Linked DNA regions of Homo sapiens: region 1 is linked to region 2. The links come from fine-mapping of genetic effects on gene expression. A gene starts in region 2. The other region holds a variant in brackets. All regions are shown on one strand. Distances are from middle to middle.

Region 1 (16,301 bases), 25 kb before region 2:
GTCTGAAACAGGTAGAGAGGCGCGGGGCAGAGGGAAGTGGAGAGAAGTTGGGAATGTGTGGATGTGAGGGAGGAACTGTGGGGCAAAGTCTCAGAAGAGATGGGTGATGAGGTCAAAGGCCAGGTGGAGGAATTAATCTCAAACTAGAGAGGGGACAACTTTTCCTTCATAAAGGGTATAAATCCTCTTCTCAAAGATCTTAAATTCTGTCTTACAGGACAAATGAGACAATGTGGGTTTTCTGGATTTGAGGATTTGTTTGTTTTTTGAGATGGGATCTCACTCCATTGCCCAGACTGGAGTGCAGTGGCACAATCATAGCTCACTACAGCCTCAGCCTCCTGGACTCAAGTGATCCTCCCACCTCAGCCTCCTAAGTAGCTAGGTTGACAGACATGTGCCACTATACCCAGCTAATTTTTTTTATTTTGTAGAAATGGGGTCTTGCTATACTGCCCAGGCTAGAGGTATATTTTTTTTCTTTGCCAAATCCTGTTGATTACATAGATGTGTATTTAAAAAAAAAAAACAAACTATAGTATGGATAGGGAGGGGAAATGTGCAGTGAGAGAAGCCATGCTAGGGGAGGTTAAAGAGGGGGCCACACGCCATAGCTCAATGCTTCAGAAAGGAAGCTGACCAAAGCTGGCTCACACTGTGTCTTGGCTGAAGTATGTTGGGACATATGACCCACAAGGAAATCTCATGGCTGGCCCAGGCCAGTGACATCCTCACATTTTAGGGGATCTCATCAGAATTTTGTCCCCACTAAAAGCCTGCAAAGCCCAAAGAGGTGGGCCACCAAGTGGACCTCCCCCAGCCTAAGAACGAACTCTCTTTGCTTCTTAAAGGTTTGGAAGCACAATTGAAAGCTGGAGGCCTGAGATGGTTCCCGTGAGTCACAACAATTTACAAAGTGCCTGGCGGTAGGTTATGGGCAGAGACTTCGTGGGGCTGTGTCTGAGGGAAGGTTTGCAGGCATTGTTTTCTCTGTCCCCCTCTCCACCAAGAAGTAGCTCTCTAGAGTCCCTGACCCCAAACAGCCATGGGCAGAAATCAGAAAACAGCTTCCTTCTGTCTGCTGCTCTCCCCACCTGGCCATCTTCACTTTATGAGAGTGATGACATCGACTCCATCACGTCTGAGATGGAAAAGGCTCTCAGCTACTCCCAAAAGGTATGCCCTGGGCATGGGCCAATGACCCTCAGCATGGCCATCTCTGCCTCCGCAGGTGGGCCCTGAACCTGCGGTGTCGGGGCAGCAGGAACGTTCTCAGCGCCCTGCGGAAGGCTGTGGAAGTAGACTTCAAGGACAAAGACAAACACCAATCGCAGGGAATCTACCTCTTCACTGGGGGCATCCCCGACCAGGACATGGTGGGTAGGCCACGTCCTGGGTGTCCATTATCCTTTGCGACCTCATCCGTCTTCCCCCAGGTGGATACCTTGCCAAGGTTTCTGCAGCATGATTTCTAAACCAGTGCTTCTCAAACTTTAATGTATAGACAAGCACCTAAGGATGCTGTTAAAATGCAGGCCCTGGAGACCAGCCTGGGCAATATAGTGAGACCACATTTCTGTAAAAATTTTTAAAATAACCTGCCATGGTGGCACATGCCTGTACTCCCAGCTACTCAGGAGGCTGGGGTGGGAGGATCTCTTGAGCCCAGGTGCTCGAGACCAGCCTGGACAACATAGCAACAAGACCCCATCTCTACAAAAATAAAATTTAAAAAATTAACCAGATGTAGCCAGGCACAGTGGCTCATGCATGTAATCCCAGCACTTTGGGAGGCTGAGGCAGGCAGATCACCTGAGGTCGGGAGTTTGAGGCCACCTTGACCAACATGGAGAAACTCCATCTCTACTAAAAATACAAAATTAGCTGGGCGTGGTGGCACATTCCTGTAATCCCAGCTACTCGGGAGGCTGAGGCAGGAGAATCGCTTGAACCTGGAGGGGGAGGTTGCGGTGAGCTGAGATCACACCATTGCACTCCAGCCTGGGCGACAAAAGCGAAACTCCATCTCAAAAAAAAAAAAAAAATTAACCAGGTGTGGTGACATGTGCCTGTAGTCACAGCTACTTAGGAGGCTGAGGCAGAAGGATTGCTTGAGCCCAGCAGGTCAAAGCTGCAGCAAGCTATGTTTATGACCCTGCACTCCAGCCTAGGCAACAGAGCGAGACCCTGTCTCTTTAAAATACATACATACATACATACATACCTACATAGTGCAGATCCTGGTTCAGTAGGTCTGGGGTGGAGCCTGGGAGTCTGCATTTCTGGCAGGCTTCCAGGGGATGTGGATGCTACTGGTCTAGAACATGCCTGGTATCAGGAGGCTCTCAGGTCCAGCTCCCCAACCACACTCTGTTAAAATATTGAGAGAAACTGCAACCCAGCCTCATCTCTTTCCATCCTTGTGCCAAGGACTGGACCAGGCACAGAGAAGGCCCTGGAGAAACATGGCCAGGCTGGGCTGCCCAGAGCCCCACAGCTTCAAGGCCCTCAGCTGCTGGCCCCTCCTACCTTCTCTTCCCCACCAGCCTACACTCAGTGCCTACATGGCTGAGGCCTGTGGCGGCTGCGACCTCCAGCTGAACGTGTGTCTCTTCTACGTGGGCGAGCCAAAGATGGACACCACACCCCCTGCCCGCTATGCCAGTCACACTGACACAGCCGCCGCCTACAAGGAGGTCACCCGGGCTGCAGGTGGCCGCTTCCACTGGTTTGGAGACACAGGTACATGACTGTTTCCTCATCCCTTCAGCTCATTCCAAACAGTTGTCTCAGCACCAGCATAGCTCCCTTAGACCACAGATGTATTCCAGAAAAGCAGCTTGTGAAAATCACATTTTAAAATGTAAAACTGTTCCTCTGAAGATAGATAGCAGTGATGGTTGAACAACAATGTGAATGCACTTAATGCCACTGAATTGTACAATTTTAAGTGATTGAAATAGTAAGTTTGATGTTATGTATATTTTACTGCAATTTTTTTAACTTAAAAGAAGTAGGCCAGGAACAGTGGCTCATACCCACAATCCCAGCAGTTTGAGAGGCCAACGTGGTCAGATCGCTTGAGATCAGGACTTTGAGAACAGCCTGGCCAACATGGTGAAACTCTATTAAAAATACAAAAAAATTAGCCGGGTGTGATGGCACATACCTGTAGTCCCAGCTACTCGGGAGGCTGAGGTACAAGAAAATCGCTTGAACCCAGGAAGCGGAGGTTGCAGTGAGCAGAGATCACACCACTACACTCCAGCCTGGGTGACAGAGCAAAACTCTGTCTCAAAAAAAAAAAAAAAAAAAGAAGAAGAAGAAGTAAAACTCTAAAAGTATATTATGAGTCAGGTGGTGGCTCACACCTGTAATCTCAGCACTTTGGAAAGTTGAGGCGAGCGGATTGCTTGAATCCAGTTCAAGACCATCCTGGGCAACATAGCAAGATTCTGCCTTTACAAAAAAATTAAAAATTAAAAAATATATAATTTAGAATGTCATAGAATGTCAGAGCTAGAAGGCACCCTGAACATCCCTTAGATTGTTTTTCAAAGGGTGGTGTGTTCACAGCACATGGTTGGCAAGATAGTTGTACATGGTACAAAAAGCAACATTTTTTTTAGAGACGGGGTCTCCCTCTGTCACCCAGGCTGGAGTGCAGTGGTGCCATCATACTTCACTGCAGCCTCAACCTCCTGGATTCAAGCAATCCTCCCACCCCAGCCTCCTGAGCAGCTGGGACTACAGGTGTCCACCACCACGCCCAGTTAATTTTTTAAATTTTTTTTTATAGAGAAGGGGTCTCACTATATTGCCCAGGCTGGTGTTGAACTCCCAACCTCAAGCAATCCTCCCTCCTCAGCCTCCCAAATGCTGGGATTACAGGAGTAAGCCACCATTCCCAGCCCTCAAGTCACCTCCAGGTGGCTTTCTAGTATCCAGATGATGGGGACGCTTGCCAGGATCCACACCCTGTCTCACCTTGCTCACGATGTGCTTTGTTTCCAGGCATTTATGAGAGCGATGACATCAACTCCATCATGTCTGAGATGGAAAAGGCTCTCAACTACTCCCAAAAGGTATGCCCTGGGCATGGGCCAATGACTGCACTGCCTTTTGTATTCATTTCCTGGGGCTACCATAACTGCCACAAACTGGGTGGCTTAAAATAACAACCATTGATTCTCTCACTTCCAGAGGCTGGAAGTCTGAAATCAAGGTGTCAGCAGGGCCAGGCTCCCTCTGAAGGCTTTGGGTAGAATCTTTCCTTGCCCCTCCCTGGCTTCTGGTGGCAATTGGTGTTTGTTTGTTTGTTTGTTTGTTTGTTTGTTTTTAATTGCACTGGTTGCTCTTTTAAAATGGCAAGGAAGACTTTACTTAAGACTATTGCAATAGGGGAGAGAGACTGAACTCAACTCTAAATAATAGCAAAGATAGCTGGAGATTTATAGCCAATGAGCAGTCAGTGGATGGAAAAATTACTAAGAGAACTGGATAGATAGGATAGATAAAAGGATTCTTGTTAAACAGGGCTCTTGCTAAAGGCAGACCAAAGGCTTAGATGTCAAAAATAGAACTGGGCACAGTGGATCCCACCTGTAATCCCAGCACTTTGGGAGGCCAAGGTGGGCTGATCGCTGGAGCCCAGGAGTTTGAGACCAGCCTCAGCAACACGGTGAAACCCTATCTCTGTTAAAGAATTTTTTTAAAATAATTTTTTTAAAAAAGGTATCTCAGATGGGAGATGAAGAACTTGCTTGGATATCAAGGATGGGACAGGTCTCACTAAACTGACTTAGCAAAATTCTTTGCCAAAACTGAGTTCGGCAGGCCAAGGTCAAGGCCTCATTGAGAAGATGGCTTAGAGGAGCCGGCTAAAGTTCGGTCAAGGAGGCAGTCCTTGTCACCAGCAATCTCTGGCATTCCTTGGCTTGAGGAGCATAACTCCAGTCTCTGCCTCTGTCTTTACATGGCTGTTTTCCCTCCAGGTGCATCCCTTCTCCTCTTACATGGACAACAATCAGATTAGATTAAGGACCTGCGCTACTCCAATATGCCTCACCGTAATTTGTATCTTAATTACATCTGCAAAGACCCTATTTCTATGTAAGGCCACATGCACAGGTCCTGAGGGTTCAGACTTCAACATATCCTTTTGGGGGACACACCTCATCCCATGTCAGCTTCCCTCTTCATGTCCTAATCCACTGAGACCCAAGGCTTCAGAAGAAATGAGTGTCTCCTAGAAGCCATTGGTTTTAGGTCTGTGTGCTGCACATTCTGGCCTCCTTTGAGTTCCTTAAACACGTCAAGGTTATTGCTAAACCCATTCCTAAGCTCAGGGCCTTTGCACCTGCTGTTTCCTCTGTCCTTCCCATCCCAGACCTTTCATGGCTTGCTCCTTATCATTAGTTAGGGTTTTGTTTTTTGTTTTTTGGGGGTTTTTTTGAGACAGAGTCTCACTCTGTCGCCCAGGCTGGAGTGCCATTGTGCAATCTCAGCTCACTGCAACCTCTGCCTCCTGAGTTCAAGCAATTCTCCTGTCTCAGCCTCCCAAGTAGCTGGGGCTACAGGCACCCGCCACCACGCCTGACTGATTTTTGTGTTTTTTAGTAGAGATGGGGTTTCACCATGTTGGCCAGGCTGGTCTCAAACTCCTGATCTCAGCTGATCTGCCTGCCTCAGCCTCCCAAAGTGCTGGGATCACAGGCGGGAGCCACCACACCTAGCCTATTAGTTAGTTTAGACACACTAAAATGTTACTTCCTCAGAGGAGTTGAGCAGGACAAGATACAATGAGAGAGGTAGCTAGGAGCCAGATCCCGTGAGGAGCAATGACTATCTAAGGAAGAATTCCCCGGACTTGCAAGTGATTGAACGGGCAGTGTGAAAGAGAAAACATACAAACTGACCCCCACGCTCCTCACTGGAGCACCCAGTAGACAGTGAGGCCATTGACCAAGATGTAGAAAACAGGAGGAAGAGCCCATGGAAGGACGGAGAGGTGCAGGGAAGGCGGGTCTGGGACAAGGGTGAGTTTGTGGAGCCTGTGAGATAACAAGTGAGGGTACCCTACAGGCAGGTGGGAAAAGACATGGCTGGAGATGGAGATTTAGGGCAGTTCAAGCCACAGTGACGGACAGAGGGCACTTAGCAAGGCTGTGGTCGAGGCAGTGGAGTGGAGGAGCCTGTGAAGGAGACTCCTGGACTCCACCACTTGCAGAAGGACTCACTTCCCAGACTGGATTGTGGACTCCTGGGAGGGCAGGGCCACGTCTCCATCTTCTATTCCTCTGTGGCCACTGGATCTGCAGATCTGTGGCTCCCCCTGCGTGCCTGTGCTGTCTTCCCCAAAAGGGACCCTTTTGGTGCTTTTAAAATATCTCTTCCCAGCTGGGCGTAGTGGCTCATGCCTGTAATCCCAGCATTTTGGGAGGCTGAGGCAGGCAGATCACAAGGTCAGGAGATCGAGACCATCCTGGCTAACATGGTGAAACCCCGTCTCTACTAAAAATACACACACACACACACACACGCACACACACACACACACACACACGCAAAATTAGCTGGGTGTGGTGGTGCGCACCTGTAATCCCAGCTATTTGGGAGGCTGAGGCAGGAGAATCCTTGAACCCGGGAGGCAGAGATTGCAGTGAGCCAAGATCATGCCACTGCACTCCAGCCTGGCAACAGAGTAAGACTCTGTCTCTAAATAAATAAATAAATAAATAAATAAATAAGTAAGTAAATAAATAAATATCCCTTACCCTCAGGTGCACATAGTCCCATTCCCTCATCAGATAAACTGATACATATGGTGTTAATGGGCAATGACCGCATAATTCACCTTTCCAGAGGATGCTTATTTACATTTGAATGGTGTCTTCTGGAGCTTTGATTGAGAATAATTGCTGGGGAACCAGTCAGGCTGTTGAGAAAATCGTAGGCAAAAGGCATTGAGTATTACACCATTAGTCTGCCAGCATCTGGAATCAGCCCTGGCATGCGGCAAGCTGACTGGCCCACAAGTGGAGGCCACAGTGTCTCATAATGGAAGGGTGCTGGCTTTGGAAACAGACCCACCTGGTTTGAATTGAAGTTTCTCTACACACTGATAAGGTGGTCTTAGATGAGAACCTTAAGCTCACAGAGCTGTAACTGTAATAGATCTGTGGCCAGATATGCATGGCAAGTCAATGCACAGAGACACTGGGTTGCAGCAGAGAAAAGAAGTTTAATTATAGGACTGCCAAACAAGGAGATGGGAGGGAACCTCAAATTTGGTGTTAAGGTTTTTAAGGGTTTTGCAGTGGGCTGAAGTATGGAGATCACTGACTAGTTGAGTGCAGGCTGGAGTCATGGGCAGGGGAGATGAAGAAGCTGTGTTCTCATGCTGTTCCTGTTCCTCTGGGGGTCTTCAAACTGTTGGCATCAGCTGCTTTGCTGGAATTCGGGTCTGAAAAACATCTTAAGCAATTCTTAAACAAAAGCCTTGTGATTCTGAAGTCAGAAATCCTATCTAGAGGAACAACGGGGATGCAAACAGCCAGGATCTGGTGCTATGTGACTTTAGGTTACAAAGAAGTGGGGCTATGTGCAGCCTGATCAGGGCTTCATGATAACTAGATTTTTGTCCAGAATTCTTGTTAACTCTGTGATGACAGCTTCAGAGCTTTGGTTTCCTCATCTGTAAAATGGGGAGACGACACACCTACCCTATCGGCATAGCTGATGTGACTTGTTGGCATGAGGGTTGGAGACCCCCAAGTATTCACTAGCCCAGAGCCTGTGCCTCCCAGGCCCCCATACCTGGTCTTACTGTTGTTCATAGGATTGGTCCATAGCACTTTCAGCCCCAGGTGGCTTTCTAGGGACAAAAAGAGGAGTCCAGGGGACATCAGAGGTTCCAGTGGATACAGTCCCTCCTGCTGTGTGTGTGTGTGTGTGTGTGTCCACAGTGGCTGGGGGTGCCACTGACCCTCCCAATCCCACTGCAGTGTGCCTTCCTCATGGCCTCCCTGAAGAACCATTCAGGAAAAGTACTGGGAAGTTCAGCCCTCCCGAAAGAAAAACCAAAGACACTTCAGCTAAGAAGTCAGCCCAAGAAGCTCTGCCCTCCCAGGCCCACCGTCCCCCTGGGGGCCAGAATGGTTTGACTCCCCTCCTAATAACACGCAGAAGATTTGGTTTCCTGTTTGTCTTCTGGTCTTTCCTGGGTCTTAAAATGGCTGGGGCCAGCAGGGATGGGGGTGGGTGCTTCAGTGGTGAGTGTCCTGTGGGTGCCTCTTGCCCAGGCCTCCAGGGGGAAAATCTCCCGCGGGGGGCCGGCTCCTCAGCTCTCGGGGTCCTCTGTCCTCCCCCAACCCACCCTTGGCTCTGTCAGCCTATCCCAGCCTTTTCCCTACCCTGGTACTGAGGATGCCACAGAATTGACACCCACCTGTTTCATCTGATGGCTTATCCTGGAGAGTCTCTCGGGGGCAAAGGAATTATGGTCTCTAAGGGCTCTTCCCGCTGCCACCCAAGACTTTGCAGAGGCTGATAGGAGCCTGAG[G/C]GTGGGCTGAGCCTGCTAGGGGCTTATCCTCATTCACAGCCTATCAATTCTGTCCTCCATAAAATACCCACCCACCTTGGCAATCAGAAGGGCTCTAGAGGACAGACCCCAGAGGCACCTGTGCTTGTGAGCAGACTGGGAGGGACACCTGTGAGTCCCTCAGCATTGCATGACTCAGACCCTGTGAGCACAGCCCATGTTCAGAATGTGGAAATCCATCCCAGACAGTAGGTAGCAGATTTCCAGCCAAAGGGCTGCCTTTCCAGGAGAGCCTGTGCAGCCGGGTTCTGCCCTCGTTCGGGGAACTCTGCCAGGTTTCAGGAGCCAGCTCAGGCACTTCGCCCCCTCCTCAGAGGCTGCCTCTTGAGCCTTCAGTGCTTCCTGAGTGCCTCCTGAAACCAGGCCGGGTGCTCCCCAGACAGTGACTGTTTAATGACCGCCACACTCCAGTCGTGGCTGAGAATGAAGGAACTCTTCCCTTAAAACTGAGGTGTCTGGGCCAGGTGCAGTGGCTCACACCTGTAATCCCAGCACTTTGGGAGGCCAAGGCAGGCGGATCATGAGGTCAAGAGATCAAGACCATCCTGGCCAACATGGTGAAACCCCCTCTCTATTAAAAATACAGAAATTAGCCGGGTGTGGTGGCGGGTGCCTGTAATCCCAGCTACTCGGGAAGCTGAGACAGGGAGAATTGCTTGAACCTGGGAGGCAGAGTTTGCAGTGAGTCGAGATCACGCCGCTGCACTCCAGCCTGGGTGACAGAGCCAGACTCCATCTCAAAAAAGAAAACAAACAAACAAAAAAAAACTGAGGTGCCTGATAAGGCACAGAAGTTACCTAAATTTCTGTTGTCATGCTGGAGGCCCAGACATCCCAGTCCATTAGGAAGAGGGGCAGGTGACTGATGAAAAAAATTCTGGCAAACCCCCATAGCTCTCTCACTAGCAGCTCTCTCACTCTCATCTCACACACACACACATGCATACATACACATATGCACATGCACACACATACATATACACTCCTACACACATGTACACACCCATACTTTTTCACCTCAAAACCCAGAGTCCCTTCTGAATCTGCTGCAGGAGAGGGGCCAAACCTGTCTGAGGAGTCCCCTCCCTTAGGCTCCTCCCTACAAAAGTTCCTGATTGACAAATTGAGGTCAGGGTAACTGGGATCCTGCGTGACACAGGGAACACTCCTCTGATGGGAAAGATTGCCTGTTTTCTAGAGCATTAAAGATGACCCTGACAGAGAGAAGAGCCCCCCGCTGAAATCTCTGAAATGGCGTCCACTCAGTAGCAGAGTTGGCATCTCACCAGGTAAGGCACCATCACGGTCAGGCAGGGTGGAGGGATGTCACGGTCACGGCTGAGGCATGGGTTAATAATGATAGTAACTAGAGCCACGTGTGGAAGCTCGTGCCTATAATCCCAGCACTTTTGGAGGCTGAGGTGGAAGGATCACTTGAGGTCAGGAGTTCAAGACAAGCCTTGACAACATAGCAAGACTCCATCTCTACCAAACAAAAAAGGAGCCAGATGTGGTGGTGCATGCCTGAAGTCCCCCAAGTACTCAGAGGCTGAGTTGGGAGGATTGCTTGAGCCCAGAAGTTCGAAGCTGCAGTGAGCTATCATTGCACCACTGCACTCTAACCTCAGTGACAGAGCAAGACCCTGTCTCTACTTTTTTTTTTTTTTTTTTTTGAGACAGAGTCTCGCTCTGTCACCCAGGCTGGAGTGCAGTCGTGTCATCTCAGCTCACTGCAACCTCCACCTCCTGGGTTCAAGCGATTCTTGTGCCTCAGCCTCCTGAATAGCTGGGACTACAGGTGTGTGCCACCACGCCTGGCTAACTTTTTGTATTTTTAGTAGAGACGGGGTTTCACCATGTTGCCCAGGCTGGTCTACAACTCCTGAGCTCAGGCAATTCATCTGCCTCGGCCTCCCAAAGTGCTGAGATTACAGGCGTGAGCCACCACGCCTGGCCACATCTCTTAAAATAATAATCATAATAGCAATAATGATAGTAACTAAAACGATCAATGATCCTGAGTCTTGATCATGTGCCAGCCCATCTGCTAAGATTGTCCCATTTAAAGCCTATAATGATCAATCCTTTGCATCTGTATTCTATCAGCTTCCTATTGTACTGACAAAGGAACTGAGGCTCAGGGGGGTAAGGATCATGTGCCACTAGTGGTAACAGGCCTTCACAATCTTAATGAAAGTACTCAGCTCGTAGAACCTAAGACCATGTATTTTATTTCTAATGTCAAAGGTATGGCAGAGTGGCTCAGAGCAGAGTTCTGGAGTCAGCAGGACCAGGTAGAATCATGCCCTGCCTCTTACTGGTGGATTCCCACTTACCTTATCTGTAAACTGGGGGACTGTGAGGATGAAGCAAGGCAGCATACTCAAAGCACTTAGCACAATGCCAGGGAAAGATCTGGACTCAGTAAATGGTAGCTATAGCTATTTCTGATCCAAGCAAAGCCAGAGACCTGGCGGGGGAGGACACAGGGTGCCTTGAAGCCATCTTGGAGCCCCATTTCCTGGGGTGGAGTATAGCTGAACTTGAGTGTCTCTAAGCCAAGCTGGACAGCTGTATTGCAAGAATGCATGCAGCTGCTCCAGCCAACAAGCCAAATGTTCCTCAGCTGCGGCCCAGCCAACGAAAGAAGGGATGATGGAACTGAGGAGGAAGACCAAGTCAAGGGAAGCAGAGACATCTCTTTTACTGTTCTACACAGAGAAAGGGAATGACGTGGGTAAGTTAGAGGCTATACAGGTGTCTGGACAGCCCCCTGGCCCTGGGGGAGCTGTAAGGGCAGCAGGTACCGTGGGAAGGAGACCCCTCCTGCTGTCCCAGGACCTAGGCACTGGTGCCTCTGGAGCAAGCCGTACTCAACTCAGTTCTCCCAGCCCTGGGAAATGGACATGCAAAGTTTTGACAACAACCAGGGAATGAGAGAAGTCAATATTGAAGATGAGACCTCCTGAGATTCTTGGGCACTCCAGCTCTGTCCACTAGGGGCAGTTTCCTTAGCTCTAAGGCAGATGGCAAGGGATGGAGATGATTCCCCTAGGCCAGCCTGATTCACTGCTGTGAAATGGTGCAGATCCCAAGAACAATTCATTGCTAGGCAGGAGGTCCCAAACAGCCTTTCCCCATCCACCCAACAGCTCCCTTTCTACCTCTCAGCAAATTGCACTAAGGACTTTTACAACTGACTTGATTGACAGAGAAATTGACATGAAAAAGGGAGCAGTGGGAGATTCAGGGGGAGGGAAGAGAGGTACACAGGGTGACCATCTTAGTTCATTTGTGCTTGGAATACCCAAGGCTAGGTGATTTATGAAGAAAATAGGTTTTTTTAGCTCAGGCTTATGCTGGCTGGAAGTTTGGGCATCTGGTGAGAGCTTCAGGCTGCTTCCACTCATGGTGGAAGGCGCTGGGGAGCTGGCATGTGCAGAGATCACATGGAGAGAGAGGAAACAAGAAAATGGGGAGGTGCCAGGCTTTTATTTAACAGCCAGCCCTTGCGGCAAGTAATAGAGGGAGAACTTACTCGCTCCCCACCCTCTCACCAGAGAGAGCATTGATCTATTCATGAGGGATCCGTTCCCATGACCCAAACACCTCCCATTAAGCCCCATCTCCAACACTGGGGATCACATTTCATGAGGTTTGCAGGGGCTCAACCATCCAAACTATAGCAATGACCTCACTCTGCTTCTTCTAGGCTCAGTGTACAAGAAGTACCCTCAAGGAAGGGGCTTGAGAAGGACTAGCTCTTCTATTGACTTACCCAGAAAGGATACAGTTTGCTCAAGCCAAGAGGTATTAAGTCACCCATACTAGCACATGCCCATTAAGCAATAGAGTAGTTCTGTCCACCAACCATTACTTCTAGGATGGGGGGGCATAATCAGAAATGAGAACAAGCCAGGCACAGTGACTCACACCTGTAATCCCAGCACTTTGGGAGGCTGAGGTGGGTGGATCACTTGAGGTCAGGAGTTCGAGACCACCTGGCCAACATGGTGAAACCCCATCTCTACTAAAAGTACAAAAATTAGCCAGGTGCAGTGGCACGCACCTGTACTCCCAGCTACTTGGGAGGCTACATCATGAGAATCACTTGAAACTGGGAGGTGGAGGTTGCAGTGAGCCAAGATTGTGCCGCTGCACTCCAGCCTGGGTGACAGAGCAAGACTCTGTCTCAAAAAAAAAAAAAAAAAGGACAAACCTGATAAGAACAATTGCTTACTGTGGCAGATGGGATAAGGGTTAAATAGACCTAAATTCAAAATCTAGGTCTGCCACTTCCTGCCTGGGTGACCTTGGGCAAATCACCTAGCTATACTCAATCTCACTGCCTTTGTAAAATAAGGACAATTGTGCCAGTCAAATAAGATTGATGTGAAGATTCTTTAAAGTGAAATCAACAGAAATCCCACTTCTTGTGCATAAGGGGATAGTTGTCCCACAGCTATTCAATAAAAGCCTGAGCATGGTTCTGATTGTGCCGATGGCAGATGCCATCCCTGGCTGCTTTGAGCCTGCCCATTCTTGTGTCCCTCATTGTGACAAGGAGACTGAGATTATCCTAATTGGCTTAGAGTCTAAGCTTTAGACCAATCAGGGCTTTCCACTCAAATATTGTAGGTGGGGTGCTCACTTCAGCAGCACATATACTAAAAAATGTTGTAGGTGGGGTTGAAATGGATGTTAGGGAAGTAACAGTGTCCACTAGACTAGGGTCTGGGAGGTGCGCGATAGATTTTGTTCTTCACCCCCACTATTTCTTTCTTTCTTTCTTTCTTTTTTTTTTTTTTTGAGACAGAGTTTCACTCTTGTTGCCCAGGCTGGAGTGCAGTAGCACTATCACTGCAACCTCCGCCTCCTGGGTTCAAACGATTCTCCTGCCTCAGCCTCCCAAGTAGCTGGGATTACAGGCATGCACCACCACTCCTGGCTAATTTTTTGTATTTAGTAGAGATGGGGTTTCACCATGTTGGCCAGGCTGTTCTCAAACTCCTGACCTCAGGAGTTTGAGAACCACCGCTGTCAGCCTCCCAAAGTGCTAGGATTACAGGCATGAGCCACCGCGTCCAGCCTGCACCCCCATATTTCTTGTGCATTTCTCCCCCAAAGCCAGGGAAGGAATCTGCATGGGATGGATGCTCTGTGAGGACCTGGGAATCCCACATTTCAAACATCATACAGGTTTCAAACATGAGGTTCTCATAGACCAGTCAGATGATCATTCAGTTGAGTCTGAATTGCCTAAGATAATAGTTCTTTCCTTTATTCTAAAGTGGGTGGCAAAATATGGGCTCAAAAAATTGAAGCTGGAGATTTCCAGATGCATGGGTCCCAACTGCACTCATCAAAAGTCAGGACAGAGGTCAGCATCCGCCAAACACTGCAGCATCTTCCCCAGCGTTGAGATCCATGTAAGTCACAATTTTCATCATCGTCTTTTTTTTCTCCCCCAACTCAGCTGCAAATGGCAGAGAGCAGTGTAGGGCACTGTGGCCTCTATTTCTGCTTGTAGGAACTGCCCTCCTCCCCAAAGTGGGACTCCCCTCACCAAATAGGAGATGCAAAATCCTGTTGGAAGAAAAGCCAACTTCCCAGAGGGCCTAAGATCCCATTCCAGGGTTAGATGAGCTCATTGGAATAAGAATTATAAACAATTGCCGAGGCCAGGTGCGGTGACTCCTGCCTGTAATACCAAGTGCTTTAGGAGGCTGAGGTGGGAGGATTGCTTGAGCCCAAGAGTTTGAGACCAGCCTGGGCAACATAGCAAGACCCCATCTCTGAAAAAAAATTAGATTAGCCAGGTGCAGCTGTGTGCCTGTAGTCCGAGCTACTTGGGAGGCTGAGGCGGGAGGATTAGTTGAGTCATGGAGTTCAAGGCTGCAGTGAGCCGTGATCACGCCACTGCACTCCAGCCTGGGCCATGGGGCAGGAGCCTGACTCTTAAAACATAAAAAGGAAAAGATAGGAAAAATAGCAATTGCTGAGAAGATTGGGCCGTGGCTGAAGTGTTCACCCATAAGAATGCTGTACCCCAATACTGATGATGGTTCTGTTATGGCAGCAAATAGGGGTTGTGATAGGAAGTGAAGGGTTCTCTTTTCTATTTTCTAATTTTGGGGTGATTTTTTATTGCTTTGACACTGGAACAAGTAAATTTAGTACAGAATGAAAATCTGATCATTTCTCTCCTTGCCCTCTTATCCTACATTGTCAAGATTAGGGGAAACTAAAAATAGCCACAAAATTCAAAATTATTCACTAGAGGAATATAGGGTCATTCTAGCATGTTGCCCCTCTCCACCTGAAGTCATCTTTCAGTTCAAAATTTATGAACTTCTTACCCCACCATTTAGAGTTTTCTATTTTAAAATTTAGAGATTATTGGCCAGACGCAGTGGCTCATGCCTGTAGTCCCAGAACTTTGGGAGGCCAAGGCGGGCGGATCACCTGAGGTCAGGAGTTCGAGACCACCCTGGCCAACACAGTGAAACCCCGTCTCTACTGTAAATACAAAAATTAGCCAGGCATGGTGCTGTGCACCTGTAATCCCAGCTACTCAGGAGGCTGAGGCAGGAAAATCGCTTGAACCCGGGAGGCAGAGGCTGAAGTGAGCCGAGATCGCACCACTGCACTACACAGCCTGGGCAACCGACTGAGACTCTGTCTCAAAAAAAAAAAAAAATCAGAAATTATTATGATTTTTATTAATATAGCAACTGCATTTACCAAAAAAAAAATCTTAATTCCCTACTCCTTTGTAGAACCATAAATCCACTAGTTTAATAGAAGAAAAAAAGGCTTTAAACAAAAAAAAAAAATACACTTAACAGATGGTTGTTTTTTGTGGGTTTTTGTTTGTTTGTTGAGACAGGATCTTGCTCTGTCATCCAGGCAGGAGTGCAGTGGTGCAATCACAGCTCACTGCAGCCTCTACCTCCCTGGGCTCAGGCAATCCTCCCACCTCAGCCTCCCCCAAGCAGCTGGGACCACAGACACATGCCACCACACCAGCTAAATTTTCTGTTTTTGGTAGAGATGAGGTCTCCCTATGTTACCCAGGCTGGTCTTGATCTCTTGGGCTCAAGCGATCCTCCTGCCTCGGCCTCCCAAAGCGCTGGGATTACAGGCATGAGCCACCGTGCCCAGCCAACAAATATTTTGAGAATTGTTAACCACAATGGAATAAACAATTTTAGGGGGTGATGGGGATATGAAGAAATGACTGATGGGGTGGGTGCTTGCCTCTGCTTGCCTTAACCCAGGGAGTGGTGAGACACATCCAGTGGACGCCCAGGGAGATGGAGGTGTACATCAGGCACTTGGAGAAGGTGTTAAGGCGCTATGTCCAGAGGCTGCAGTGGCTGCTGTCCGGTGAGCCTGCCCACTGCCCTGAAGGGTGGAGGAGCATGAGGGGATGTAGAAGGCTAGCCCCAGGGACCCCAGTGTCAGTCCTTCCAAAGCCAGGCCTTCAAGAACTGCAGATCAGAGGATTAGGCCAGGAACATCATCCACATACAACATGACACTGGGAGGCCGGGCGTGGTGGCTCATGCCTGTAATCTCTGCACTTTGGGAGGCCAAGGTGGGTGGATCACCAGTCAGTAGTTCGAAACCAGCCTGGCCAACATGATGAAACCCGTCTCTACTAAAAATACAAAAAATTAGCCAGGCATGGTGGCGG
Region 2 (16,301 bases):
CATACCTGTAAGTCTACTTCACTAGAAGAAATGCAAAAAATGGCTGAACAGATTCTACTGAATAGCGCTGAGATAAGGAAACGGTGTCATTTCTGTTCCACTGGACCAGAGTGGGGCCACTTTCACTCAGATTCTGACACCATCGTACTTTGCCACCGTCCCCTCCCTACACTGACTCTCAGACACCATATTTCAAAGTTTCCCCTTTGCAGAATGACTGTCTTGATAGGTAGTGAGCTTCCTGACCCTGGAGATATACAAGCAGAGGCTCACAAGATTTCCTGCACTGGATGGAAACCAGAACGTGATTAGCTCTAAAATGCTTTTCCTGAGATTTTGGATTTTCAGCTCCCATCCAGTCATAAACTTCACACTCATTTCCTCTTTTCAAGGATCCCACATTGCCACCATTTGAAGGAGATGATTTAAGGATCCTGGCCCAGGAGATCACCAAGGCCAGAAGCTTCCTCTGGCAGGCCCAATCCTTCAGGTATGCCCTTCACGCAGCCTCTCCGGCCTGCCATGTGGCTACAGCCCATGCAGACCCCGGACCCCATCGAGAAGGGCCGCACCCATGATGGTACCCTTGCTCCAAGGGTTCCTGCCCTGCTTCTCCCAGCCAGCCCAGAAATCTGGGCACCAGGGAGACCATCTTTCTTCATCTCCTGCCCACCAGATCCCAACTCCAGAAGAAAAATGATGCAGAACCAAAGGTCACTCTTTCCTAGAGAAGTGTTCTCAGGTAAGGGGAGGGGCTAGACCCCATACTACCTGAGTGTGCACTAAGCACCAAGTGGCATGCTCTATTTTGTGGTCAATAATAACTTTGGTTAAAAAATAATGATTCCTCTAAACAGAAAAGTCATCCTGCAAAGGACCACTCACTGAGCAAATCTCAGCCCCGAGGGCAGGATGGGATGAAATGCTGTGACCTGCAGGAAACATGATTCCTGGTACCAGGACTCTCTGGAAGCTGAGGAAGGAAAGACTTTGTCTTTTGTGTGAGGGGCCATTCCCGGGTCTTAATCTAACTCTCCAGCCCTGTCCCGCAGCGCACTCTACTCTCCAGCCACTAGATTGTCCCTCTCTGGGAAGCCCTAAACCAACCCCCTGCCTAAATGGTGGTGCTTCTTGCAAACCAACCCCCTGCCTGAACGGTGCTTCTTGCCCCCTCTGCCTGGAGACTCCTGCTCATCCATCAAGGCACAGCTCAAATGACATCAGCTCCCTGGGACCTATCTAGAGCGAGGGGCCTCCAGTCTTTCTCTTGCAGCATCCTGACCACGCAGACCTCTCGCACTCAGCACTCTATGTCACGCCACCTTGCTCGCTGATCTAACTCTTCTCCTTGATGGTGAGCTCCTTCGGGATGAGACTGGTGTCCCAGGATCTGCAGGTCCCCAGAAGCTGCCACATAGGAGACACATGGTGAACAGTGAGCAGGCGGCTGAGCTGTGAGAGCCTAGCTCTGGAAAGCAGCTGATGGGGTGGTCTCCACCCTGGTTCATAAGAGGCTAATGCAGAGTCACAGTCAGCCCATCCTGGGGGAAGAAGAAACAAGTGAGCCTCAGCACCACCCTCCATCCCTGCCCAACCAAACTGAAGTGAAGGCTGCTCATCTGGGTTCATTTTCTAAAATTAAAAACAATTAATTTTATTCTACTAATAGGATCAACATGACTTTAACTGTTTGAAGTGATCATTGGCGTGTGTGTGTGTGCATAAATTTTTAGTGACATAAAACTTTATTAAAAGACTCATACCATAATAAAGAATTTCAATAAGAAAAAGATAAACATCCATTTTTTTGTTTTTTTTGGAAACAGAGTCTCGCTCTGTTGCCCAGGCTGGAGTGCAGTGGTGCAATCTCGGCTCACTGCAACCTCCGCCTCCTGGGTTCAAGCAATTCTCCTGCCTCAGCCTCCTGAGCAGCTGGGACTACAGGGGCCTGCCACCACGTCTGGCTAATTTTTGTTTTAGTAGAGACAGGGTTTCATTATGTTGGCCAGGCTGGTCTTGAACTCCTGATCTCAGGGGATCTGCCCGCCTTGGCCTCTCAAAGTGCTGGGATTATAGGCGTGAGCCACTGTGCCTGGCCCATCTCAATTTTTTTTTTTTTTTTAGGCACAGTCTCACTCTTTTTGCCCAGGCTGGAGTGCAGTGGCACGATCTCAGCTCACTGCAACCTCCGCCTCCCAGGTTCAAGCGATTCTCCTGCCTCAGCCTCCCGAGTAGGGTAGCTGGGATTACAGGTGCCTGCCACCACGCCCAGCTAATTTTTTTTATTTTTATTTTTAGTGGAGACGGGGTTTCACCATGTTGGCCAGGCTGGTCTCAAACGCCTGACCTCAGGTGATCCGGCCCGACTGAGACTCCCAAAGTGCTGGGATTACAGGCATGAGTCACCGCGTCCAGCCCATCCAATTTTTAAAATGGACAATAGGTACATGAAAAGGTGCTCAACAGCCTTACCTGCCAGGGAAGTGTAAATTAAAACCACAGTGAGATGCCACTACACTCCCACTAGAATGGCTAAAATAAAAAAGACTGGGGTTGGGCACAGTGGCTCATGCCTCTAATCCCAACACTTTGCGAGGCTGAGATGGGAGGATTGCTTGATGCCAGGGGTTCAACACCAGCCTGGGCAACATAGCAAGACCCCATGTCTCCAAAAATTTAAAAGAAATTAGCCAGGCATGGTGGCCCAATGCATGTAGTTTTAGCTGCTCAGGAGGCTGAGGCATGAGGATCAGTTGAGCCCAGGAGTTTGAGACTACAGTTAGCTATGATTGTGCCATTGCACTCCAGCGTGGGCAACAGAGTAAGACCCTGTCTCTTAAAAACAAACAAACAAAAAGACAAGATGGCCAGGCATGGTGGCTCACACCTGTAATCCCAGCACTTTGGGAGGCCAAGGTGGGCGGATCACATGAAGTCAGAAGTTTGAGACCAGCATGGCCAACATAGTGAAACCCCGTCTCTACTAAAAACAACAAAAATTAGCTGGGCATGGTGGTGCACACCTGTAATTCCAGCTACTCAGGAGGCTGAGGCATGAGAATCGCTTGAACCCAGGAGGTGGAGATTGCAATGAGCTGAGACTGGGCCATTGCACTCCAGCCTGGGCAACAGAATGAGACCCTGTCTCTAAAAACAGAACAAAAAAAGAACTACAATATCAAGATGTGGAACAGTTGGAACACTCATATTCCAATTAGGGTAGGGGTTGGGGTAGGGACGTATAATTTGACTCAATAACTTTGGAAGACTATTTGGCAATTTCTACTAAAGTAAAACATATGCCTACTCTATGATCTAGTAATTCCACTCCAAGGGTAATGAGTGCATATGTTAGACAAAAGACATATAAGAATTTTTCCAGCAGCCTTATTCATTAGAGCTCAAAATTGGAAACTACCCAATGTCCATCAGTGGCAGAATGTGCAAATAAAATCTGATACATTTTACAGTGAAATATTATGCATCAATTTAAAAAGAATGAACGGCTCATGTGGTGGCTCACACCTGAAATCCCAGCACTTTGGGAGACCAAGGCAGGTAGATGGCTTGAGCCCAGGAGTTTGAGACTAGCCTAGGTAACATGGTGAGAACCCATCTTTACAAAAAAATACAAAAATTAGCCAGGCTTGGAGGCATATGCCTGTAGTGCCAGCTACTCAGGAGGCTGAGGTGCAAGGATCACCTGAGCCCAGGAGAGGTTGAGGCTGCAGTGAGCCTTGATCATGCCACTATACTCCAGCCTTGGCAATAGAGTGAGACCCTGCCTGCACCCCCAAAAAAGAATGATCTATACAGCTATATTCAACAAGATGCATCAGTCTCATAATATTGGGCAAAAGAAACCAGACACAAAGGAGTACATACTGTATAAAGTCATTTATATGAAGTTCAAGAACCAGCCAAACTCCTTATTGGTGATTGAAGTCAAAATACTAGTTACCCTGTGGGATGGGGGACACAAAGGGGACATCTGGTGTGATGAAAATATTCTATATATTGATAAAGGTAGGAGTTACATTGAGCTATACATAAGTAAAAATTCATCAAGTTGTTTAAAAACACTCAGTTGTGGCCAGGTGCGGTGGTTCACGCCTGTAATCCCAGCACTTAGGGAGACCAAGGCAGGCAGATGGCTCAAGGCCAGGAGTTCGAGACCAGCCTGGCCAACATGGAGAAACCCTGTCTCTACCAAAAATACAAAAATTAGCCAGGCATGGTGGTGGACGCCTGTAGTCCCAGCTACTCGGAGGCTGAGGCAGGAGAATCGCTTGAACCCGGGAGGTGGAGGTTGCAGTGAGCTGAGATCGTGCCACTGCACTCCAGCCTGGCAACAGAGACTCTGTCTCAAAAAAAACGAAACTCACTTGCTAAGGCTTGATGAGACCCTGCTTTGGCCAGGCTCTGTGCTGGGCCCAGGAAGGCAGTGGTGACCACAACCCCTGCCATGGTAAATCTCAGTCTGGTCCATCTTGCACAGCTGCCATTTTGGGTCACGTCTGTAAATACAGAGAAAAGGGCCTGTGGTGGTTGTATTCATTTGCTAGAGCTGTCATAACAAAGTACCACAAATTGAGTGGATGAAACAACAGAAATGTATTCTCTTATTGTTCTGGAAGCTGGAAATTCAAGATTAAGATGCCCTCAGGGCCATGCTCCCTCTGAAGACACTGGGAAGGATCCGTTCCAGACTTCTCTCCTCCATTCTGGTAGTTCCTTGGCTTTGGGCAGCATAACTACAGCCTTCACATGAAGCTCTGCCTATGTGCATGTCTCTGTTCAAATTTCCCCTCTTTATAAGAACACCAATCATACTGGAGTAGGGGCCCACCCTACTCCACTATGACCTTAACTCATTACATCTGCAGTGACTTTATTTGGAGAGTTAGGGTTAAGTACATGGGATTGGGACTTCCACATATGAATTTTGTGAAGAACACAATTCAACCCGTCACAGATGTAAGTTATGCTTCTCTTTGCAAGACAATATCAGCAGCTGGTACTGGGGAATATGAGTTCTCTGGCCCTGTTGGTGGGAGAAGAATAGGCTGGCCTTTGTGAATGGAAGGTTGAACCAAACACATGGCTTATGAAGTGGGGAAGGACAGGACCTAGGTTCAAATCCCAACCTCCCATGTAATGAGGAGAACAGCTACCATTGTTTGCACACTGATTGAGCCAGCACCATGCTCAACATTTTGCATAGAGCATGTTAGCCATAAACCTCACAGCATGACAACTATAAAGTGCACATCATTTGCAGTTTACAGATGAGGAAACTGAGCCTCGTAGCTGCTCAAAGACACACAGCAAGAAAGTGGCAAAGCCAAGATTTAAATCCAGGACTGACCCTATGGCTTTTCCCCACCACATTTGGAGCCCCTTTTCTGAACCTGTTTCCCTGTCTCTAAAATTGAGCTAAAACAGAGTTGTGAGGATTAAACAAGATCTCTTACCATCTGGCTCATAGAACATGCAGACTAAGATTTTGTTTTTCTCTTCCCCACACCTATGCCCACAGAGGGTGTTGTATGGGTGGAGGCTTTTTCAGTTGCCCTTTTCAGAGCAAAGTGACCAGCCCTTCCTGCTCTCAGCCCCTGTGGCTCCATTACAGCAGTTGTGAGCTCTTGGGCACATGCCTGACCCTCCAATACTGCCACTTGAACATGAGTTTTCTTTTACTGAGACAGGATCTCACTCCATTGCCTGAGCTCTCCAGCATGAGACTGCAGTGGCACAATCACAGCCCACCATAGCCTCCACCTCCCAGGCTCAGGTGATCCTCCTGCCTCAGCCTCCCAAGTAGCTGGGACTACAGGCACATGCCACCATGCCCGGCTAATTTTTTTTTGTAATTTTTTGTAGAGATGGGCTCTCACTATGTTGTCCAGGCTGGTCTTAAATGCCTAGGCTCAAGTGATCTGCCCACCCCAGCCTCCCAAAGTGCTGGGATTACAGGCATGAGCCACCACACCCAGCTGAACATGAGTTTTCAAAGGATGATATGATCCAGCACTGAAGAAGCACCCATCAAAATAGAATGATGTGATTGATGCATAAATCAACAGAGATAAGTGGAAGATTGCAAGACAGGGAGAGTAGATAGATGGGTAGAAGCAAGGAAAGAAAGATATATGTAATGAATTAGATGGGTGGAAGGTTGGATGGATGGAAATTTGGATGGATAGGTGGAAGGATAGATGATGGAAGGTTGGATGGACAGGTTTAAGAATGGATGGATGACAGGTTGTATGGATAGGTTGAAATACAGATGGATGGAAAGGACAGGTTGAAATAAAGATGGATGGAAAGCTGGATGGACAGGTAGAAGTACAGATGGATGGAAGGTTGGATGGATAAGCAGAAGGATGGTCAGGGAGAAGATTGGATGGATAAGTGGAAGGATGGATGATGGAAGGTTAGATGGATAGGTGGAAGGCTGGATGGATAGGTGGAAGGCTGGATGGATGGAAGGTTGGATGGATAGGTGGAAGGATGGATGGATGGAAGGTTGGATGGATAGGTGGAAGGATGGATGGATGGAAGGATGGATGGATAGGTGGAAGGATGGATGATGGAAGAACTTTTTTGGTTTTTTGTTTTTGTTTAAATATTTGCAAATCATTTATCTGATGAAGGATTTGTATCCAGAATATACAAAGAACTCTTAAAAGTCAACAAATAACTCAACTGAAAATGAGCAAAGGATTTGAACAGACACTTCTCCAAAGAAAACACATTAATGTGCCAATGAGCACATGAAAACATGTTCAGCAGCATTAGCTATCAGGAAATTCAAATGAAACCACAATGAGACACCACTTCACACCCAGTAGAATAGTTAAAATTTTAAACATAGATATAATAATAAGTGTTGGTAAGGATGCGGAAGTATTGGAACCCTATACACTGCTGGTAGGATTGTAAAATGGTACAGCTACTTTAGAAAACAGTTTGGCGGTTCTTCTCTAAACACAGAGTAATCATATGACCCAGCAATTCTGCTCCTACATATAGATGAAACCCTTTTTCTTGGGGTTCTAGGACGACTTGGCCTGCAGGACAGAGCCCGGCACGCAGGGCCTTTGCGTCTTTTCCCACAAGAAGCGTGGACCATTTCGCCCATCCCAGCCCTACTGGCTTCAGTTTCCCCTCTATGAGAGCCCGCGGGTCTCCACCTGAGAGAATGCAGGTGCTCCCGCGCCGGGAGTGGGCGGGCAGAAGAGCGGGCGGGGGGCGGTCCGGATGCCTCGTCCCGCCCCGCCCCGCCCCTTTCTGCCCTCCTCGGGAGAAGGAGGTGGCCCGGTGGCCCTGGCGGCGCGGAGACTGGCGCAGCGCGGGGAGCACGCAGCGCCGCGGGAGCCCGGGCCAGGTGAGCGAAGCCCGGACGCGGGCCAGGGAGGGACGCAGGTGCTGGAGGGACAGGGAGGGTGAGGGAGCCAAGAGGGGAGGGGACCCCCACCCTGGAGCTGCCCGCGAGCCCAGCGCTCTCAGGGTCAGTCCCTGATGCTCCCCACCCTTTTGCCAGTTCCTTCCACCAAACCCGCTTTTGGGGTCCCCATCGACCTGGATTCCGGCGGAGACACTGTCTGTGACTCCATCAAAGTTTCCTCATGTTCTCTGGGCCTCAGTTTCCACCTCTGGGTAATGGGAACCATAGCCTGTACTTCACTGAACTTCCAAAAGAATGAGTGAAGCCATGTCCAGGGTGGGTCTGGCGCGCGACCATAGCACAGCCAGATCCCGAACACGCCCCAGAGATTTTGTTCACCCAGCAGCATTTGCTGGCCGCCTGCTTTGCGCCAGGCACTGTTCTAGGTGCTGGGACACTCCAGGGAATGAAATCCTCCTGGAGCTTTGCAATCTAGCCTCGCAAGGCATTCTGGCGTCTGTTTTCTCATGACCACCCTGTGAGGAGCCAGAGCAGCCAGAAATATTTGGGTCCATTCGCGGTTGTGGGTACTAAGGTACAGTGAGGTTTTAAGGCCCTTACCCAAGGGCACACCCCAATAAGTGAGTATCCAAGGCTGAGTCCAGCCTTTGCCACAAAAGGCATCCTCTTAGGGTAGAAAGTCAGCTCTGGTCCCATAGACCCTTCCCCAGAACAGAGTCCTCTGGGCCTGAGTACAGGAGGAGGGCTCGCTGTGGGGCTGCATCCTCTCCTCTCCCTCTCGGGGATTTAGGCCCCTGCTCATGATGGTTTGCAGTCTCTCTCATTAAATCCATGAGTGGGCTGGGCGCAGTGGCTCACGCCTGTAATCCCAGCACTTTGGGAGGCTGAGGGTGGCAGATCACTTGAGACCAGGAGTTTGAGACCAGCCTGGCCAAAATGGTGAAACCCCCGTCTCTACTAAAAATACAAAAATTAACCAGGTGTGGTGGCGCGTGCCTGTAGTCCCAGCTACTCGGGAGGCTGAGGGAGGAGAATTGCTTGAACAAGGCAGGCGGAGGTTGCAGTGAGCCAAGATCACACCACTGCACTCCAGCCTGAGCAACAGAGTGAGACTCCTTCTCTAAATAAATAAATAAAGCCATGAGTGTTCGTGCTTATACGGGGCAGGACTGTATTCCTCACCCAGACATTTGGTGAGCAGGGCAGTAACAGAGGAAATTAAAAATACAGCCCCTCTAGCTGCCAGAGTCCCTGCCCTGTGACCACCACCAGCAAAAAAACATGGGGCTCATCAGTCCAGTCACTCAACAAATACCCGTTCTTTCATGCAGCCAGTATATGCCATGCAGGGCAGAGATGCACCTATCTGTATATGTAGGGCCTGGCGCACAGAGGTCCCTAGCACATGGTTGCTGTTGTTACGGTTAATGATCACCTAGCCCTGGTCATCCAGCCTCATCCTCAGGTGGAGAGGGAGGTCGGGAGGGGGGTGGGGGGATGGACGATGGTGACAGTGACTGACAGCCTGGCTTGCCCTGAGTCTAGACTGAGGGCTGGGCACAGTGGCTAACGCCTGTAATCTCAACACTTTGGGAGGCCAAGGCAGGAGAATTGCTTGAGTTCCAGGAGTTCACTACTAGCCTGGGCAACAGAGTGAGACTCTGTCTCAAAAATTAAAAAAAGATCTAGGGAGCTGGATGCGGTGGCTCACACCTGTAATCCCAGCACTTTGGGAGGCTGAGGTGGGAGGATCACTTGAGGTCAGGAGTTCAAGACCAGCCTGGCCAACATGGTGAAACCCCATCTCTACTAAAAATGCAAAAATTCACCAGGCATGGTAGCATGCACCTGTATTCCCAGCTGCTTGTGGGGCTAAGATGGAAGGATCGCTTGAGCACAGAAGTTTGAAGCTGCAGTGAGCTATGATTGTGCCACTGCACTCCAGCCTGGGCGACAGAGAAAAGAAAGTAGTCTGAGGCTGCAAAGAACAGGATCCTCAGTGCTGTCCCCCTAGGCCCATAGACCAGACCCTAAAGCCTGCAGAGGGATTGGGCAGAACGTGTGGTACCAGCCACCCACACTACTGTCGGACCTTGGAGGACCAGAGGCGTCAGGCATCAGGGTGGAGACAGGCACAGCACTTGGAGTCATGTGCAAGTTTCCAGGGTGCAGAGTCCTTTTGGATCCATGTGGATTCTCCTCCTCCTCCTCTTTCTCTTCCTCCTCTTCCAGAAGGCTCTCCCAATCTCCCCAGTCAGAAAGCAGCCACCTCCCAGTCTGGTGAGGTTCCCGCTGGATGATTTGCCCTGTCTTCCTTTGGTACTCCATGGAAACTGGAATTTTAAGGAACTGGTAGATAAGTCAGGAATGCTTAATGTCAACCTCAGTTACACAGCGTGACTTTGGGCCTCAATTTTCTTAGCTCTAAAATCCAAGTCTTGGCTGCCTTGTCTCTGACTCTGTGCAGAGGACAGCAGCCACACTGGAGTTTTTTGTTTGTTTGTTTGTTTGTTTGTTTTTGAGACTGAGTCTCATTCTATTGCCCAGACTGGGGTGCAGTGGCACCATCTCAGCTCACTGCAACCTCCGCCTTCCAGGTTCAAGCAATTCTTGTGCTTCAGTCTCCTGAGTAGCTGGGATTACAGGTGTGCCCCACTACACCCGGCTAATTTTTGTATTTTCAGTAGAGACAGGATTTCACCATGTTGGCCATGCTGATCTCCAACTCCTGGCCTCAAGTGATCCGCCCACCTCAGCCTCCCAAACTGCTGGGATTACAGACGTGAACCACCACGCCGGGCCCACACTGGAGATTCTTGAGATTCTGAAAGGGGCAGGTTCCCTGGGAACTCAGAGAATTTCTAATTTCCACCTGGAGTTCCCCTCAGTCCTAGAGGTCTAATAATTTATGTGACTTGAAACGATTCTAGAGCATTCTTTCTTCTATTTTTTTTCCCACAGGTGGTCGGTTTCTGGGTCTGCATGGCTCAGTAGAGGATGAAGTCCAACCCCCCACGCTCCTCCCTAGAGGCCTGCAAAGCTGCAGGCCAGGGTGAGAAGAGCTGCCCTGTCTGCCAGGCCTGTGGAGAGGTCTCAGGTCCAAGGTCTGGCTCAGGGTCTGAGTCAAGGCCTGCACCAAAGCCTGGTGCCATTCCAGGGCCTGGACTGGGGCCCAAAGCTATTCCAGGACCTCAGGCGGGTTCTGGTACTGTTCCGAGGCCTGGTGCTATTTCAGGGACTGGACCAGGTCTAGGGCCTGGGCCAGGAGCTGGGTCTGTACCTGGGCCAGGAGCTGGGTCCGTACCTGGTCTAGGAGCTAGGTCCGTACCTGGGCCAGGAGCTGGGTCCGTACCTGGGCCAGGAGCTGGGTCCGTACCTGGGCCAGGAGCTGGGTCTGTACCTGGACCAGGAGCTGGGTCGGGACCTGGTCTAGGAGGTGGGTTGGGACCTGGTGTAGGAGCTGGGCCAGGAGCTGGGTCTGTACCTGGGCCGGGAGCTGGATCGGTACCTGGGCCGGGAGCTGGATCGGTACCTGGGCCGGGAGCTGGATCAGTACCTGGGGCAGGAGCTGGGTCTACACCTGAGCCAGAGCTAGGGCCTGGGCTCAGACAGGGGTCTGGGACTGGGCCCAGACCCAGTGAGTCAACAACAACCCCAACACCAGCGCCGCAGCAGAAGACTCAAGCCAAACCTACAAAGGCTGCCAGGCAGAAGGTTCTAGTGACTGGAGGAGGAGGCTACCTGGGCTTCAGCCTGGGATCCCACCTAGCCAAGAGCGGCACTTCCGTCATTCTGCTTGACCGCCGCAGACCCCAGTGGGAACTGTCCCCGGAAACCAAGTTCATCCAGGTACAAGGAACAAGGGTCTTAATAGACTGGGGCAGTGGTGATGGTCAGGGGACAGTGTTTGATGTGAAACCTGTGGTGTGGAGTTTAGGGGCACACTGTTTGAAGCCAGACTGTTTGAGCTATAGCTCTGGCTCTGGTGCTACCAGCTGGGTAGCTATGGTCACAGAAAGGGGACAATAGTAACCAACACCTACTTCACAGGGTCTCATTGGGAGTTGATGAGACAGTGCACATAAACCTAGCACAGCCCCTGTCACCTACAGAGCGTGATGAATGAGCACGGGATGTTGCTCACGGTGCCCTGTAGAATCATTTAGTGAATCCTGCCCCACCAGCCTTTCCTGATGCTACAGAGGCTTGGCCTGGGCTGGGTCAGGGGGCCAGTTCTGAGACCAGGCAAGGTGCAGAGGTGTTATCTCTTGCCTTGGACTTGAACCCCCTGCCCTCATCTCTTCTTCCTCTGGTGCAGGCTGATGTCCGAGATGAAGAAGCCCTGTACCGTGCCTTCGAAGGGGTGGACTGTGTCTTCCACGTGGCTTCCTATGGAATGTCCGGGGCTGAGAAGGTGGGCTCCTCACACACAACACCTGGAGTTAGACAGAGTGGGGTTCCAGTCCTGGCTCTGCCCTCACACCCATGCATTCCCTATCATGCTTCACCTATTATAGGAGGGACTTGGGCTACTCCCACCCTGCATCCTGCATCCATGACACCAAATACCAGTTCTGCCATTTTTTTTTTTTTTTTTTTTTTTTTTTTTTTTTTTTTTGAGACTGAGTCTCACTCTGTCACCCAGGCTGGAGTGCAGTGGCACAATCTCAGCTCACTGCAACTTCCATCTCCCAGGTTCAAGTGGTTCTTCTGCCTCAGCCTCCTGAGTAGCTGGGATTACAGGTGCCACCAACACGCCCAGCTAATTTTTGTATTTTTAGTAGAAACAGGGTTTCACCATGTTGGCCAGGCTGGTCTCAAGCTCCTGACCTCAGGTGATCTGCCCGCCTTGGCCTCCCAAAGTGCTGGGATTACAGGCAGGAGCCACCGCACCCGGCCCCATTTCTGCCATTTTATAACTGTGTTATCTAGGGCAAGTTTATTTAACCTCTTTGATCCTCTTTCATCATCTGGAAAGTGAGGATATTACTATTGGTAATATCACAACCTCTTCAGAGAGCAATGTAATAGTATCCACCAAAACATATGTATACCCGTTGCCTCAGAAATTACACTCATTTGTGTATTTGCAGCATTGTTTTTAATAACAAAACACCAGAAATAACCTATCAGTTGAGGACTATTTAAATAAATTGTGTTTTACAGTCAAATTCTATGCAGCCATTCAAAAGAAAGAGGTAACTCAAAGTGTGCAGATTAAAAAAATAGTTTCCAAGGTGCAAAGCAGTGTTTGGCATTCTCCTGTTTGTTTCCAAAAAAAGCTAAAGAAACTATTTATTTCTATAGTCACACATGCTTATATGCTGATATTAATAAGAATAGATTATCTCGAGAAACACCGGAAATTTAACAGTGGCTGCCTCTGGGGAGGGAAAAGGAAGATTTGGAATCAGGAGTAGGAGGGAACCTTCTTTTTCACTATACACCCATTTTACTGTTTGAATTCTTTTTAACCTTGATCGTGTTGCCTATGAAACAAAAACAGCCACAACAAGAATAAATATAGAGCCAGGTGTGGTGGCTCACACCTGTAATCCCAGCACTTTGGGAGGCCAAGGTGGGAGGATTGCTTGAGCCCAGGAGTTCGAGACCAGCCTGGGCAACATAGTGAGACCCCTATCTCTATTTAAAAATAATAAAAGTAAATTTTATTATTTTTATTTATTTATTTATTTTTGAGACGGAGTTTCGCTCAGTCACCAAGGCTGGTGTGCAGTGATATGATCTCAGCTCACTGCAGCCTCCACCTCCCAGGCTCAAGCGATTCTTCTGCCTCAGACTCCTGAGTAGCTAAGATTACAGTTGCACGCCACCACACCTGGCTAATTTTTGTATTTTTAGTAGAGATGGGGTTTTGCCATGTTGCTCAAGCTGGTCTCAAACTCCTGACCTGAAGTGATCCGCCCACCTCGGCCTCCCAAAGTGCTGGGATTACAGGCATGAGATACCACACCTGGCCAAAAATTTTTAAAAGAATAAATATAGGCTGGAAGCAGTGGCTCATGCCTGTACCCCCAACATTTGGAGAGGCCAAGGCAGGTGGATCACCTGAGGTCAGGAGTTTGAGACCATCCTGACCAACATGATGAAACCCCATCTCTACTAAATACAAAAACATTAGCCAGGCATGGTGGTGCATGCCTGTAATCCCAGCTACTTGGGAGGCTGAGGCAGGAGAATCATTCAAACCCGGGAGGCAGAGGTTGCAGTGAGCCAAGATTGTACCACTACACTCCACCTTGGACAACAAGAGCTAAACTCGGTCTCAAAAAAATAATAATAATAAATATAGCTTAAAAATAAGCATGGAGCTCATCTCCTGGTGTGATGAGAATTAAATGAGATCATGGATCAGGAAGTTCTTGCCCTGTTCCTGGCCCACAGGAGCCCTCACAGCGGCCTAATTTTTGTTTTTCACATCCCAGCTCCCTCGTGAGGGCCCAGCCCATATTACCATGTTCACCTTACAGATAGGGAAACTGAGGCTTTGAGAGTAGGAAAATGACCCAACAGGTTCTGAGCCCATCTTCTGTGCCAGGCACTGTACCAGGTCCTCTCAAGTGTCTTATTGAGTCCCGCCCACCACCCAGGGGAGGAGGTTGGCCCTCACTTTACAAATGAGGTTGCTGAGGGACAGATGTGTGGGCAGAACCTCCTCTGGCCACCCAGGAAGATGGTGGCAGAGCCAGGCACCCACACTCCAGGTGGGCCTTCGGGATCCCTGCCTCTGAACTGAACATCCTGCTGCCCTGTCCCACCTGACCCCAAGCTCAGCCTTCCAGCCTCAGCAAGAAGGCATGGGTAGCACCATGACTTTCTCACCTGTCTTGTCTTTTAGCTGCAGAAAGAGCAGATTGAGTCTATAAATGTTGGAGGCACCAAACTAGTGATTGATGGTAGGTGCTCAGAGCCGGGTATGACCTGCTGTGCCTCTCCCCCTCTCTCCCTTCTCCTGCTGCAGGCCTGGCTCCCAGGGTGTAGGGTCAAAGGGAGGGCCTGTGGGCAGCGCATCCTTCGTGCACTGCAGACCTCCCCAGGGCCCTGCATGGGTGTGTCAGTGTGGCCTTAGCATGTCTGGGAACATGGGGACCAGAGTTACCTCTCAGGGCTTAGGGACTGGAAAAAGAAAAGTTGCCGAAGCTGGCTGGGCGTGGTGGCTCATGCCTGTAATCCCAGCACTTTGGGAGACCAACAGGGGTGGATCACCTGAGGTCAAGAGTTCGAGACCAGCCTGGCCAAAATGGTGAAACCCCACCTCTACTAAAAATACAAAAAATTAGCCAGGCGTGGTGGCGGGTGCCTGCAGTCCCACCTACCTAGGAGGCTGAGGCAGGAGAATCGCTTGAATCTGAGAGGCAGAGGTTGCAGTGAGCCGAGATCGTGCCACTGCTCTACAGCCTGGGTAACAAGAGCAAAACTCCATCTCAAAATAAATAAATAAATAAAATTTAAAAATAAATAAATAAGTCTGGGCGAGGTGGCTCACGCCTGTAATCCCAGCACTTTGGGAGGCCGAGGCAGGTGGATCACCTGAGGTCGGGAGTTCGGGGCTAGACTGACCAACACGAAGAGATCCCATCTCTACTAAAACTACAAAATTAGCGGGGCGTGGTGGCGCATGCCTGTAATCCCAGCTACTCGGGAGGCTGAGGCAGGAGAATCGCTTGAACCTGGGAGGGGGAAGTTGTGGTGAGCCGAGATCGCGCCATTGCACTCCAGCCTGGGCAACAAGAGTGAAACTCCGTCTCAATAAATAAATAAATAAATAAATAAACAAACAGATAAATAAAAAGTTACTAAAGCACCAAAATCGCAGACCCATGTGTGGGCTGCCTGGGCATGTCCTGCCTTATCCCGTATGTCTTTGATTCTAGAGTGTCTTTTTCTAAGTCTCCATCCAGTGAGACCTTCTTCTGACCTGTCTCTGGCAAGGTAGCCCAGGGGTCCAAGCCACAATGAGAAAGAATAAGGAGCAGACCTGGCTCCCAGGGGCCCACAGAGCAGGAACTTGACCTGCACCCTAAGTTAAGGGCAGGAGACTCTTCCCTCCTGAACAGCTGTAGATTCTGGGAGGGTCCTGGGGGTCCAAGTTGTGTGTTGAAAACTTGGTAGAGATCTGCATGACACCTCCTCAGCCGACTCTATGCTCACTTGTGTCCCGTGTGTGTCTGTGTCTTTGCATGTGTGTGTGTGTTTATTTGTTGCTATGTGCACCTGCTGCTGCAGTCTGTGTTCGCCGGCGGGTTCCAAGGCTCATCTATACCAGCACTGTCAATGTTGCATTTGGAGGGAAGCCCATAGAGCAGGGCGATGAGGACTCTGTGCCATATTTCCCATTGGACGAGGTACCTGTCTTCCGGGAGAGGTGGGCAGGACCCGCGGGCCCGGGACCCACAGCTCAGAGGGGAGGGATGGGTGGAAGCAGGGTTGGTTTCACAACTCAGGATACGTCCTAGCAGGAAGGGGCTCCCAAAACTGGGTGGCGTCAGCACTCTCCTGTTTCAGTTGGTCACACCTGCAGGGGCATTGAAATCAGACAGGTCTGGCCTTAGCCTCAACCTGGCCGCATTCTACCCATGTGACCCTGACCCTGAGCAAATCACTTAAGCCCTTTGAGCCTGTTTTTTTTTCTTTTCTTTTCTTTTGTTTTTTTGAGACAGAGTCTCACCCTGTCCCCAGGCTGGAGTGCAGTGGCGTGATTTTGGCTCACTGCAACCTCTGCCTCCTGGGTTCAATAGATTCTCCTGCCTCAGCCTCCCAAGTAGCTGGGATTATAGGTGCATGCCACCACAACCAGCCAATTTTTGTATTTTTAGTAGAGACAGGGTTTACCATGTTGGCCAGGATGGTCTCCATCTCTTGACCTCGT

What was found. PIP is the estimated chance that this variant, and not a neighbour inherited with it, causes the effect.
Region 1: its variant is the best candidate, but not a certain one, in a credible set for the expression of SDR42E2 in hippocampus (GTEx, PIP 0.79).

Annotation. Positions count from the first base shown.
Region 1 is chr16:22,130,354-22,146,654 of GRCh38, forward strand. VWA3A (von Willebrand factor A domain containing 3A) reads left to right here. Exons shown (of 34, transcript NM_173615.5): 18 at 852-926; 19 at 1,232-1,376; 20 at 2,547-2,742; 21 at 4,015-4,085; 22 at 8,007-8,159; 23 at 9,801-9,891; 24 at 11,229-11,339; 25 at 12,315-12,412; 26 at 13,894-14,031; 27 at 15,883-15,991. Among named protein-coding and RNA genes, the nearest start is that of SDR42E2, 24 kb to the right of the region's middle. The variant G/C (reference allele first, on the strand shown) is at 8,564.
Region 2 is chr16:22,155,175-22,171,475 of GRCh38, forward strand. It overlaps SDR42E2 (short chain dehydrogenase/reductase family 42E, member 2), which reads left to right and starts at 7,332. Exons shown (of 13, transcript NM_001394319.2): 1 at 7,332-7,390; 2 at 10,373-10,463; 3 at 11,076-11,260; 4 at 11,730-11,825; 5 at 14,271-14,328; 6 at 15,659-15,777. The coding sequence starts at 10,409. VWA3A (von Willebrand factor A domain containing 3A) reads left to right here. Exons shown (of 34, transcript NM_173615.5): 32 at 393-490; 33 at 677-742; 34 at 858-1,790. The coding sequence ends at 728.